Linked DNA regions of Homo sapiens. The protein of the gene in region 2 binds, or shares a complex with, the protein of the main gene of each other region. Each region holds a gene or a part of one and is shown on either strand. Other genes may lie near its edges. A codon is read from its position in the direction of its gene.

What was found.
Region 1: the proteins of EIF2AK2 (region 2) and SFN are in contact, whole or in part, in a crystal structure (PDB 7OBK), measured with the Homo sapiens proteins. Residues at the interface, in NP_001129123.1 of Homo sapiens: Asn546, Glu547, Arg548, His549, Thr550, Cys551; in NP_006133.1 of Homo sapiens: Lys49 (codon at 1,620), Arg56 (codon at 1,599), Lys122 (codon at 1,401), Asp126 (codon at 1,389), Arg129 (codon at 1,380), Tyr130 (codon at 1,377), Glu133 (codon at 1,368), Gly171 (codon at 1,254), Leu174 (codon at 1,245), Asn175 (codon at 1,242), Val178 (codon at 1,233), Glu182 (codon at 1,221), Leu222 (codon at 1,101), Asp225 (codon at 1,092), Asn226 (codon at 1,089), Leu229 (codon at 1,080), Trp230 (codon at 1,077).

The regions. Positions count from the first base shown.
Region 1 is NC_000001.11:26,858,568-26,864,976, reverse strand, and holds SFN (14-3-3 protein sigma), read right to left. Parts: upstream 1,829-6,409; 5' UTR 1,765-1,828; coding exon 1,018-1,764; 3' UTR 521-1,017; downstream 1-520. UniProt on the Homo sapiens protein: Adapter protein implicated in the regulation of a large spectrum of both general and specialized signaling pathways. Binds to a large number of partners, usually by recognition of a phosphoserine or phosphothreonine motif.
Region 2 is NC_000002.12:37,098,694-37,105,041, forward strand, and holds the end of EIF2AK2 (interferon-induced, double-stranded RNA-activated protein kinase), read right to left. Parts: 3' UTR 517-6,348; downstream 1-516.

The DNA.
Region 1 (6,409 bases), on a different chromosome or scaffold from region 2:
TTGTCTCCATCTCCGAACTCTGTGGGACGTGACCCTCTCCTAAGATCTAGGCTTTTTTGGCGGCGCTATACCCCTTCCTCAGATCGTACTCCCCTCCGCTGAGATCTGAGCCCTTGATGAAACTGTGACCCGCCTGCAAATCGGGTGCTCAGTGCCGCTCACTACTGCGGCGCTGTCCTTAGATCTCACGCCGGAGACTTCACTATTTCCTGCCCCGCTCCACCAGAGCTCGTCAGCCTCCCGCGCCGTGGCTCCCACTCACCTCCCCTCAGCCCGGCAGAGGAGCCACGGCGCCTCCTGTGGGTTCACCCGACCCTCCCGGTCCCGTCCAGTTTGACTGGGGCCGCCGTGATGGAGAGAGCCGGACCCCGGCCTCACCTGGACTCAAAGTCTTGCGTGCGGGCCACTGAGCCACCTAGGGAGTTCAGGGCCCTAACTCAGAGGTCCAAAGTCAGGGTCTCTAAGTCAGATTCCAGTCCCACTCCCAGCCCATCGCCAAGAACTGGAAGAGAGACAGGAGGAGTGTCACAGGGGAACTTTATTGAGAGGAAACATGGTCACACCCAGCAGACATGCTTTCCCTCAATCTCGGTCTTGCACTGGCGCGCGCGCACACACACACACACACACACACACACACACACACCCATCTCCAGCCCCTGCCACTGTCCAGTTCTCAGCCACAAGGCGGGACACTCCTCAATTCCTACGATCAGAGGCAGCAGGGGCAGGAGGGAGGCAAGAGGAGGGGAGAAGTAGCCTGGTCCTGGGGTCGGGAGGAAGCGGGTGCGGAGAGCAGGGGTGGGGGCATGACCAGTGGTTAGGTGCGCTCAACAGCTGCAAGAAGAGTGGGATCCCCAGCCCCAGGTGGCCTCAGCTCTGCCAGTCCCTCTCCACGGAGCCCTTTGGAGCAAGAACAGCGCCTAGGGGAGAAGGGTGGGGCCTCCCACCCCATACTAGTCCTCTCGGCAGGGTGGGGGACTGGAGGGGGCAGGGCGGGGCGGTGGCGGGCAACACTCAGCTCTGGGGCTCCTGGGGAGCCTCGCCCCCCTCTTCCCCGGCGTTGTCGGCCGTCCACAGTGTCAGGTTGTCTCGCAGCAGCTGCATGATGAGGGTGCTGTCTTTGTAGGAGTCCTCGCTGAGGGTGTGCAGATCAGCCATGGCCTCGTCGAAAGTGGTCTTGGCCAGAGAGATGGCCTCCTCGGGGCTGTTGGCGATCTCGTAGTGGAAGACGGAAAAGTTCAGGGCCAGGCCCAGGCGGATGGGGTTGGTGGGCGGCATCTCCTTCTTGCTGATGTCCATGGCCTCCTGGTAGGCTGACCGGGCTGAGTCAATGATGCGCTTCTTGTCGTCACCGGTGGCCACCTCGGCCAGGTAGCGGTAGTAGTCACCCTTCATCTTCAGGTAGAAGACCCGGCTCTCGGCGTCCCCGGCCTCCTTGATGAGGTGGCTGTCCAGCAGGCCCAGCACGGTGTCGCACACGCCCTGGAGCTCAGTCTCCACCTTCTCCCGGTACTCACGCACCTCGGGCCCCTTCTCCTCCGAGCCCTCCTCGTTGCTTTTCTGCTCAATACTGGACAGCACCCTCCAGGCAGCCCTCTGGCCGCCCACCACGTTCTTATAGGCTACTGAGAGCAGGTTTCGCTCTTCGCAGGAGAGCTCCTCGCCCTTCTCCACGGCGCCTTTCATGAAGGCTGCCATGTCCTCATAGCGTTCGGCCTGCTCTGCCAGCTTGGCCTTCTGGATCAGACTGGCTCTCTCCATGGCTCTGGGGACACACAGGCGGGCGGCGGGCTAACTGCTGCCTGGGACCAATGCCGGACTCTGTGTCTCTCCTGCTCTTGGCCTGCCTTTTGGCTGGGTGGCCAGGCCCAGAGAAGGGTGGGGAGGAGCAGGGGGCGGGACCAGGGCCCAAGACCTGCCTCCCTCTCCTCTCTTCCCCACACCCTTTCCGGCTCTGCAGTAAAGGTAAAAAGGCTGGGATGTGGGGGTGAATCATCAGAACAGTCAGCAGGAGAAATCTGGGCGTGGGCCCCACCTGCACTGGCACCTTTCCAGGCTCCAGGCTGCCCCCTCTTGTTCGGGGCTGGCATCACATGGCTGCCCACATCAGGAAACGGCTTCTCAAATCAGATCCACTTTCACAGTGCCCTTCCAGGGGCTAAGGACGGCTTTAGCCCCTGGCTGCTTCAGCCTCGACAGAGCCCATAAAGGTTCAGGAGGATGGGGTTCCTAATCCTGCCAGGTAACTTCCCCCCTTGGTTCAGGTGAGGATAACTCATGTTTAGGTAGGGCCATGGAGTTTCCCAAGCACTTTCATATTCACGATCGAATTTAATCCCCACCATGTCTCTGTGACACACACAGGACCATAGAGATGGGAACACTAAGTCTCAGAGAGGGGTGAGATTTGCTCAAAGTCACATAGCCACCAATTCCCTGAAACTCCTTTCTGCACCCTCTTCCTTTAGCTTTTCTCCCATTGAGGCCTCTGACCTATGAGCTCCAGACTGTGTTTGGAAGTGAGATCCAGGCTCCTTCTCAGTCTACCTGAAGATGGTTCCATCCTCCAGGCCTCATTCCCCCTCAGGGTCCCCTCTGAGCTCCCAGAATGCGCAGGTGGCAGCTTTCAGAGTGCCGCTTAATGAAGTGTTTAACAAGCAGCCTCTGAAGCTCCAGCCCAGCCTTTGTAATTAGTCACCCAGTAGGTTTGTTGGACACATTTCCCATCACTACACAATTTTCCCTTTCAAGTTGGTGGCCTGTTGCCACTTGTTTGAGGATTTACCCTCTGGCCCTCCACGCCAGGTCACCTGCCCTCTCCAAGCCACATGCCATCAGGTACCAGCGGGGCTCACAGAGGGTGGGGTCCAGCTCCCCGGCTGTCCCACTTTCCTGCCTGACTCAGACTGCTCTCTGTCTGAGGCTGGGAAGCAGTCCAGTTTGATCCCCCAGGGGGGACGCTAGCAACCTGGGGAGAGAGAGGACTGAGAAAGGGAGGTGGCAGTGACACATACCATTCTGTTTTATGGGGCAGCAATTCCAGCTACGTGATGCCTCCCCCAGCCTGTTTCTCAGAAGTTTACTTGTTCTTTCCTTTTTTTTTTTTTTAAATAGAGAGCAGATCTCACTACATTGCCCAGGCAGGTCTCAAACTCCTGGGCTCAAGCGATCCTCCTGCCTCAGCCTCCCAAAGTGCTGGGATTATGGGCATGAGCCACTGTGCCTGGCCTGTTCCTTCCTTTTGACCATTGCCCCATCTCTGACCCCTGGCAGAGTCCTCAGAGATGGAGACCTCTGTTGCCAACGTTCTTTCCCTGCTTGCCGGAGCCCTGGCCTCAAGTTTCATCAAGAGTTTCACCTAAGGGTGTTGGCATTGAGCCTATAGGGATGGATTCCTGCTTATCTGCCCCACCCATAGCCAAAGCTTAGATGGGGCTCAGAGGTAGGGCTCCCTTCACTGGGATTCTGCCGACCTAATAGTTGAGCCAGGATAATTTCACAGGCCTGTGTCTCCCCCAGCTACTCTGAGTGTCTGAACACTCATCTTCCCTCCTGGAGGGAGGCTTAGGCCAGAACTCTGGGGACCAAAGACGAGATCCTTCTCTTTGCCACAAGGAGGAGTAGGGACATGTCTGGGCTAATGCTACAGGGTTTCCAAGGAAGTAAAGGGGATTTTAAGTTTGACGTCCCAAAGATTTTGCTCAAATCAGAGAACTGACACAGAAAACAATAGGAACCACACTAAAATACCAACTTCTAGAGGGTATCTTGAGGTAGTGAGAGTGAGTGATTTTGCTTCCCTTTGATTTTCTTTCTTCTCAATTTCCTTTTTAGAGATAGGGTCTTACTCTGATGTCCAGGCTGAAGTACAGTGGTATGATCACAGCTCACTGCAGTCTCAACCTCCTTGGCCTCAGGTGATCCTCCTGCCTCAGCTTCCTAAGAATAAGGTGCTCACCACAACGCCCAGCTAATTTTTGTATTTTTTTGTAGAGACAGGGTCTCACCATGTTGCCCAGGCTGGTCTCGAACTTCTGGGTTCAAGCAATCCTCCTGCCTTGGCTTCCCAAAGTGCTGGGATTACAGGTGTGAGTCACTACACCTGGCCCTTTTGATTTTCTTATTCTCTCCAATTTATAAATAGTGAATATAGGTCGGACGCGGTGGCTCACGCCTGTCATCTCAGCACTTTGGGAGGCTGAGGTGGGTGGATCACAAGGTCAGGAGATCGAGACCATTCTGGCTAACCCAGGAAAACCCTGTCTCTACTAAAAATACAAAAAATTAGCCGGGCATGGTGGCACATGCCTGTAGTCCCAGCTACTCGGGAGGCTGAGGCAGGAGAATCGCTTGAACCCGGGAGGCGGAGCTTGCAGTGAGCCGAGATGGCGCCACTGCACTCCAGCCTGGGTGACAGAGCAAGACTCCGTCTCAAAACAAAACAACAACAAAAAAGTGAATATGTATTGTTTGTCTATGAGATACAGAATAGACTAGTATCTTTGGAATCAGACTGCCTAAATGTAATTCTTATAGCTGTTTGTGGCCTTGGCCAAGTGATTTAAGCTCTGTGAGCCTCAGTTCCTGTAACTATAAAATGGGACTTGTGAGGATTACACGAGTTAATGGAAAGCACAGTAGAATGGATGGCAACTATTATTATTATTATTTTCTTTTTTTTGAGACGGAGTTTCGCTCTTGTCACCCAGGCTGGAGTGTAGTGGCACAATCTCAGCTCACTGCAACCTCCACCTCCTGGGTTCAAGTGATTCTCCTGCCTCAGCCTCCCGAGTAGCTGGGATTACAAGGGTGCACCACCACACCCAGCTAATTTTTGTATTTTTTTTTTTTTTAAGTAGAGATGTGGTTTCACCATGTTGGCCAGGCTGGTCTCGAACAGCTGACCTCAAGTGATCCACCTGCCTCAGCCTTCCAAAGTGCTGAAATTATAGGCATAAGCCACCATGCCCGGCCAGATGACAACTATTATTATCATGTGAAAAAATCCCGTCAACTTTATTATGATCAACATATACTCACAAAGCACTAACATAGAGTTAGGTTCTGTGAAATGAGGAAGGACCCCAAGCCAGGACTTAGCCAAAGGCCAGACCTTCCCAGCTGGGTGTCTACAGGGGAGAGGAAGCAGTTTGCCCATAGCCTTCTCTCTCCAGATGGATGAATGGCCAGATGTGCTCAGCACTGCCTCCTTCCTCTCCATCTAGGACAGGCGTGTCCAATCTTTTGGCTTCCCTGGGCCACATTGGAAGAATTGTCTTGGGCCACACATAAAATATACCAACACTACCAATAACTGATGAGCTAAAAAAAAAAAAAAATTTGCAAAAAAATCTCATAATGTTTTAAGAAAGTTTACTAATTTGTGTTGGGCTGCATTCAAAGCCATTCTGGGCCACATGCAGCCTGTGGGCCGTGGGTTGGACAAGCTTGATCTAGGATATTCCTGTGACCTCAGCAGGTCCTGGAACCTCAGGGGCCTTCATTTGTACTAGTCATCCAGCCGGGGCTTCCCCAAGTCCTGGGGAAAGCTGGAGATCCCAGGACACTGGGAACCTGGAAGGCAGGCCCAGGAACTTTGGAGCCTGAGTCCAGGGAGGGACCATTTGCTTCCCGCCACTTAAGCCAGAGGACCTGGTGGTGGTTCACGCCCTCCGCATAGCCATGAGCAAGGGCAAGGAAGCCCCTTCATTCCTACTCCTCCCCTGCTGGAGCTCAGGGGTGCATCTGGGAGCCAGGCTGCCTGATACCTCCTGCCCGCTCTGGCCTGTTGATCCTGACTCAGTTCCTGTCTCAGGTACCTCCCTTTGCCTCTGGGCCTCCATTTCCCAAGTTCAGGAGCTCAGACGGGCAGGAGGCAGCAGGCCCTGGCAGGGCATGGAGCTCCACAGTCAGCTGTCTGAGTCAGCAGGACAGGAGCTGGGGTTGCAGCTCAAAGGGGCTTTCCTCATTCTGCCTGCTACCTCCCCACCCTCCTGTACAGCATCCATTCTACCAGCAGGCTCAGGGGCTCTGGCCCCATAGTCAACCAATCCTTCTTAGCTGGTAATAATAGGCTTTGAAGGGTTGTGATGAAGAAAGCAGCAACCATTTGCTCTCTACCTCCACTGAGGACAGAGGACAGGGCTCTGATAGCAGTGGGAGGGACACCAGGTAGATTCTAGAAAGAACTTCCTAAGAAATGTTTCTGTCTTGGAATGATCAAATTAAACAGGTGGCCAGAGGAAGCTCTAGCACCTTTTCCCACTGGCTAGTTGTGAACAAGAGTCCAGTTACCTAGCCAAGAGCTTACTTTACTGGTTACCTTTGGGAAGGGATATTAAATTATTTTAATTATTTTTGTGGCTCCTTGTGGAGCAGGGCGACCCCATAGGCAGTGTGCCCAGAG
Region 2 (6,348 bases):
AGAACTAGACCGGCTTAGAGAGTGGGAGATATCCCTCTGTTGTCCATCGAAAGATAAAAATACAGGCTTTCAGCCGGGTGCAGTGGTGCATGCCTTTGGTCCCAGCTACTCAGGGGGCTGAGATGGGGAATCCTTTGAGCCCAGAAGTTTGAAACCAGCCTGGGCAACATAGTGAGAGACCTCCATCTTAAGGGAATAAAAAAAAAATCAGACTTTCAATATGAGTAACAAGTTATTTTTAGGCCTTTTATGACTTTATAAATAGGCAATAATGAACACCAAGGGAAGCAAAACACTGAAAAGAATTTTAAAATTTGTTGTAGAACATTAATACGAAATTTGAAACTGCAAAACAATGTAAAATTTAATGTCATGTTGTCATTTACTTTTGTGTATATTGTGCCATGTTTATTTTCAAAGTCCTATCTAGAAATTCTAAAATGTCTAATTTTCTTAATTAAAAATCCAGAATTCTGTAGTTTCTGAAATTCAAAATAAATACTTTAACATACCAAATTGGTTTTTCTAATAAACATTTATTTCAAGTGTTATTTGTTAAACATTTAATTGTTGAGATTTGAAAATGAACATTATTATTTATTAGACACATTTTATAGGCTCATTCAAAATTCTTAACTTTTGAGTTCCTGCTTTCTTCACAGCAGTGCACTCACTACTTTCTGGTATACAAGAAGAACAGCTTGTCCCCACTCTTACAGTGTAATGAAATTAGCAGTATAATGAAGAAAAGTGCTGTGTAGGAATGACTGAGCTCTAAGACAAACTGGTAAGAACAATTAGGTACTAAACAATGGGAGTACTAGGGAGAAGATTCATTTTGAGTGGGAGATGTTGGAACACTTTGGAAATAACACTGAATTTGGGTTCTGAAAGATGGATATAATTTTGATATGCAAAGTTATGAGGAAAGAGTTACTGTATAATCCAGCCATTCTCCTAGGAATATACATCCAAGAGAAATGAAAACAAGTCCACATAAGATTTGTACACAAAAGTTCATAGTAGCATTATTCATGGTAGCCAAAAAGTACAAACAACCCAAATGTCCATCAGCTGATGAATGGATACATAAAATGCGACATATCCATATGATAGAATATTATTTGGCAATAAAAAGGAATGAGATGCTGATTCATGCCACAGCTGGGATGCACCTTGAAAATATACTCAGTGAAAAAGACCACATGTATGATTCCATTTATATGAAATGTCTAGCATGGGCAAATCTATAGAGATGGAGAGTAGATTAGTGGTTACCTAGAGTTGTGAGAAAACAGAGTGAATACTAACGGGCATAGGGTTTCTTTTGGGGGTGAGAAAAATGATAGTTGCACAACTCTGAATATAGTAAACACTACTGAATTGTATACTGTATAGGTGAATTGTATGGCATGTGAATTATATCTCAATAAAGCAGTTATTAAAAAAAAAATGAAGAGAATTTCAGATAGAAACCACAGGAGAGAGCCACTGAGTGCAAAAGCCTGTTGAGGTAAAACTGCAGACCTGCATGGGTGGGGCTTACTCGGGAAACACTGAATATGGGATGCATCATGGAAGCCTCCAGAGGAGCATGGCCTTGCCCAGTGAACTGCAGCCCAGTGAATCTCATTTTAGACTTCTGGCCTCCAGAACAGAAAGAGAATAAATGTGTGTTGTTTTAAACCACCAAGTTTGTGGTAATTTGTTAGTTATAGCAGCCATAAGAAATTAATACAGGTCCAAATCAAATTAACCCCATAAGAGCCACACAGATTTGAGAAGCATTTTATTTGCCTCACAGTTTTGCCTATTATACAGTTTCTAGTTATTTAGAATTTAAGCCAATAATGTCACCATATAACTATCAACTGTGATTCCCTTCATCTATGACTATTTTTAAGAAATGTAAGATTTGGATAAGTCATAATCACAGATCAGAAACTGCAGACATTGAGGCCTGGATGGCCGTTTAGAGAGAAAGAGTTAACATTTCAGTGGAGACCTTTCCTATCTTGTATTTCCTACAGTCTCCTCCTATCTTCAGTGCAGTGTTCTGGCAGCACCTCAAGCTCACTGTCACCAAATGGGATTCAACGTCTTTCCTCCCAAACATGCTCTACCTCACCATGTCGATAGATGTACAGTCGCCCCACTACTGGCTTAAATTCTAAATTACTGAAAACCATGTAACAGGTAAAAGTGTGAGACAAAGTACCCCTCAAATACATGTGGCTCTTGGGGTTCATCTGACTGAGACTTGTATTTACTTGAATGGCATCAGAATCCTGCTACTAACCTTCTAACAAACTTGGAGGTAATCTTTGATGCTTACCTTTCCTTAATCCCCACATCCAATTAGTTGCCAACTCCTCTTGGTTCTGTCCTCTTATTGTTCAGGCCCTCTTAGTCTTTCCACTTCTGACCTTTCAAATATAGTTTCCTCCTGCTCTATTCTAAACATGCTAGTTTCAAAGTATTGGTTGGGCCATACCTTGCTTTAAAGAAATACTCATTTGTCAACTGTGGAGGTTGCTAGGGCACTAACTCACTCTAAAATTTGATAAATATTTATCGCATCTTTCCCATTCAGATTTAGAGAAAGTTCCTTAAAGAAGAATCATAGATGATAAATGCAAGAGGTTTGATAGAACCAGAAAATCACTATTTTACAACCCCTGAAATGAAATAATGGATCCAGGCAACAATTATCAATAGCTGCTAAAACCATCAGGTGAAAGATTGATGAGAAACTTTGTAGTAGTTGGTACCACCAGAACTCATTGATCAATATTAAAATCACTGAAAGTGGAACAATCAGACATCATGTTCCTCCTGAAATGATGTAAGAGAAAGTGTATAGCATCACCTATGGAGTATTCTTGGGGGAAAATAAATGAACCAGGATCAAATCCAGCTTCTAGGTCTAACTGGACACTCTGGGGATACTCTCAGTCAAATCCTGAGTGGAGGAAATTCCACAGGACAAATAAAAGCCGAAAAGAACTAAAACGCAGGGGTAAATTTTACAGAGTAAAGGAGACACATCAACCAAATGCAATGTTGGATCTAGATTTCAACAACCAAGAAAACTGTATTTTTGAGATAGAAACAATACAGACTATTATATGATAATTAAGGAAATCTTGTCAATTTTTTGAGTGTGACAATGATGCTGTGGTTTTGTTAAAAAGATTTATCTGCTAGAGATACATTTTAAAGTACTTACAAGTGCAATGATGTAACACCTGAGATTTACTTTAAAATATTCCAGTAGGGCCGGATATTGTAATCCCAGCAGTTTGGAAGACCAAGGCAGGAGAATCTCTCAAGGCCAGGAGTTTGAGACCAGCCTGGGAAACACAGCAAGACCATATTTCTACAAAAAATTTAAAAATTAGTTGGGTGTGTTGGTGTATGCATGTAGTCCCAGCTATTCAAGCGGCTGAGGCAGGAGGATCACTTGAGCCTAGGAGTTCGAGGTTACAAGGAGCTGTGATCGTACCACTGTACTCTGGCCTGGGTGACAGAGTGAGATCCTGTCTCTTAAAAAAAAAATTACAATTAAATACTTCACCAAAAGAAACAAACAAAAAGTAAGGGGTTAGATGTATTAAGAACGGTAAAGTATTGATATTTGTTGCAGCTGGGTGATGGGTAGAGTTTCATTATTCTATTTTTGTGTATGTTTGAACATAAAGAAATGTATGAATAATATTGAAATTATTCAATATTCCATAATGAAAAGTTAACATGCCAAGAATCTCAAATTATGGTGAACACTCAGTGGGGACTGCATATTGTGAGTTATGTCTCTAGTTAGTTAACAGATAGTAGAGACCTGGAAAAGCTTGTATGTAGCCTTTTAAACATTTCTTCTCAGATACATACATGCATATATATGTATTATATAAAATACATATTCATACACATATGTGCACACACACAGGATGGCTTCATGGACATGCAACCTGTGCAGTTGCACAAGACTGTGCTTAGAAGCACCCCACACCTAATTTTTGAACGAGGGCCGTACAGTTTCATTTTGCCCTTAGTCCCACAAATTATGTAGCTGGCCATACACACACATGCACACATACCACATACCCACATGTATATATGCATATATTGTGTACATATGTATATACATTGAATATATTTAACATAAGTGTTAAGTATGCATGTGAATTTTATGTATGTATTTATGTTAAACATGTACGTATTTAAATAACATGTGGTTTAGTGATAAAAATTCCCTAAAAGGTATGTTTCTAGGGAGGCAATTATATTAAAATGGCTCTCAAAATTTCTGTGTGTGTGTGTGTGTGTGTGCATTTTAATTAGCAAATAAGGTCCCAGGCTCTTGCCCCTGTCCTCCTCTGAGTAAGAGGATACTTTTTACTTTAATTTTGAGGCCAAGAAAATATATACTCACAAATCAAAAGAAGTTGCTAAGAAATGCTATATTCATTTAATAAGAGTAGGAATATATATATCTTTTTTTTTCTTTTTTTTTTTTGAGACTGAGTTTTGCTCTTGTCACCCAGGCTGGAGTGCAATGGCGTGATCTCAGCTCACTGCAACCTCCACCTCCTGGGTTCAAGCGATTCTCCTGCCACGGACTCCCGAGTAGCTGGGATTACAGGCGCCTACCACCACACCCAGCTAATTTTTGTATTTTTAGTAGAGATGGGGTTTCACCATGTTGGCCAGGCTGGTCTCGAACCCCTGACCTCAGGTGATCCACCCGTCTCGGCCTCCCAGAGTGCTGGGATTATAGGCGTGAGCCACCATGCCCAGCCAGAGTAGGAATATTAAAATGAGGTCAGTAAAGATAAGGCTACATTCTCACTAACTGGCCACATCATTTAGTGTTTCTTTTGAATATAGCCTCATTAATCAAAACCAGATATTGTTTTTTTAAAAAAAGATTTCTCTCTACGCAGAACATTTCCAAATCTACAGAAAAGTTCAAAGAATAATACAACAAACACCTGTGTACTGTCATCTAGATTTACCAATTGTACAATGGCTAATATTTTGCCACATGTGTGCCCTCTTTCTCTCTCCATGTTGATTTTTGCTGAACATTGAAAGTTGCAGACATCATGACACACTTGGCCTCTAAATGTTTGTGCATGCATTGCCTAAAAAAACATTTTTGGCTGGGTGCAGTGACTCATGCCTGTAATCTCAACACTTTGGGAGGCCAAGGCAAGTGAATCACCTGAGGTCAGGAGTTCAAAACCAGCTGGGTCAACATGGTGAAATTCCGTCTCTACTAAAAATAGAAAAAATTAACCTGGAGTGGTGGCAGATACCTGTAATCCCAGCTACTCAGGAAGCAGAGGCAGGAGAATCACTTGAACCTGGGAGGCAGAGGTTGCAGTGAGCCGAGATCGTGCCACTGCACTCCAGCCTGGGCGACACAGTGAGACTCTGTCTCAAAACAAACAAACAAACAAAAACAAAATAAAACAAAACAAAAAGACATTTTCTACATATACTATTATCACACCTGAGAAAACAGTTATTTGGCATTGTTATCTAATATGCAGTCTATATTCAAATGTTCTCAATTGTCCCGAAGATATCTTTATAGCTGTTTGCTGGGTTGTTGCTTTCTTTTATTATTATTATTATTTAGATATGATCTCACTCTGTCACCCAGGCTGGAATGCAGTAACATGATCATGGCTCACTGCGGCCTTGACCTCCTAGGCTCAAGTGATCCTCCCACCTCACCCCCCCAAGTAGCTGGGACCACAGATGCACACTACCATGCCCAGCTAATTTTCTGATTTTTTGTAGAGATGAGAACTCACTGTGTTGCCCAGGCTAGTCTCAAAATCCTATGCTCAAGCCATCCTCCCCTTTTGACCTCCCAAAAATGCTGGGATAACAGGCATTAGCTACTGCGTCCAGCTTTTGTCTTTTTAAATATCCAGAATACAATAAAGATTCAAACATTGCATTTGGTCATTGTATCTTACAAGTCTCTCCCCTTTTTTTTTTTTTCATGACACTGACTTTTTGAGAAGCCCAAGTCAATCATCTTATAGAATGACTACATTCAGGATTTGTCTAATAATTTCCTCATGATTAAATTCCAGTTTAACACTTTGTGCAAGAAAACTAAATAGGTAAAATTCTTAAGTCACATCAGGAGGGGCATAATGTTAGGGTGTTCCACCTTGGGTGATGCTAAATTGAATCACTTGGTTATTGTGGTGACCATTGTAAAGGTACATTTTCCCCTGTATAATTGATACCTCTTCTGTAGGATTATATTTAAATCCTTGTAGAAGATCCTATTCCACAATAGCTTTTCATCCAATAGTTTTAGCA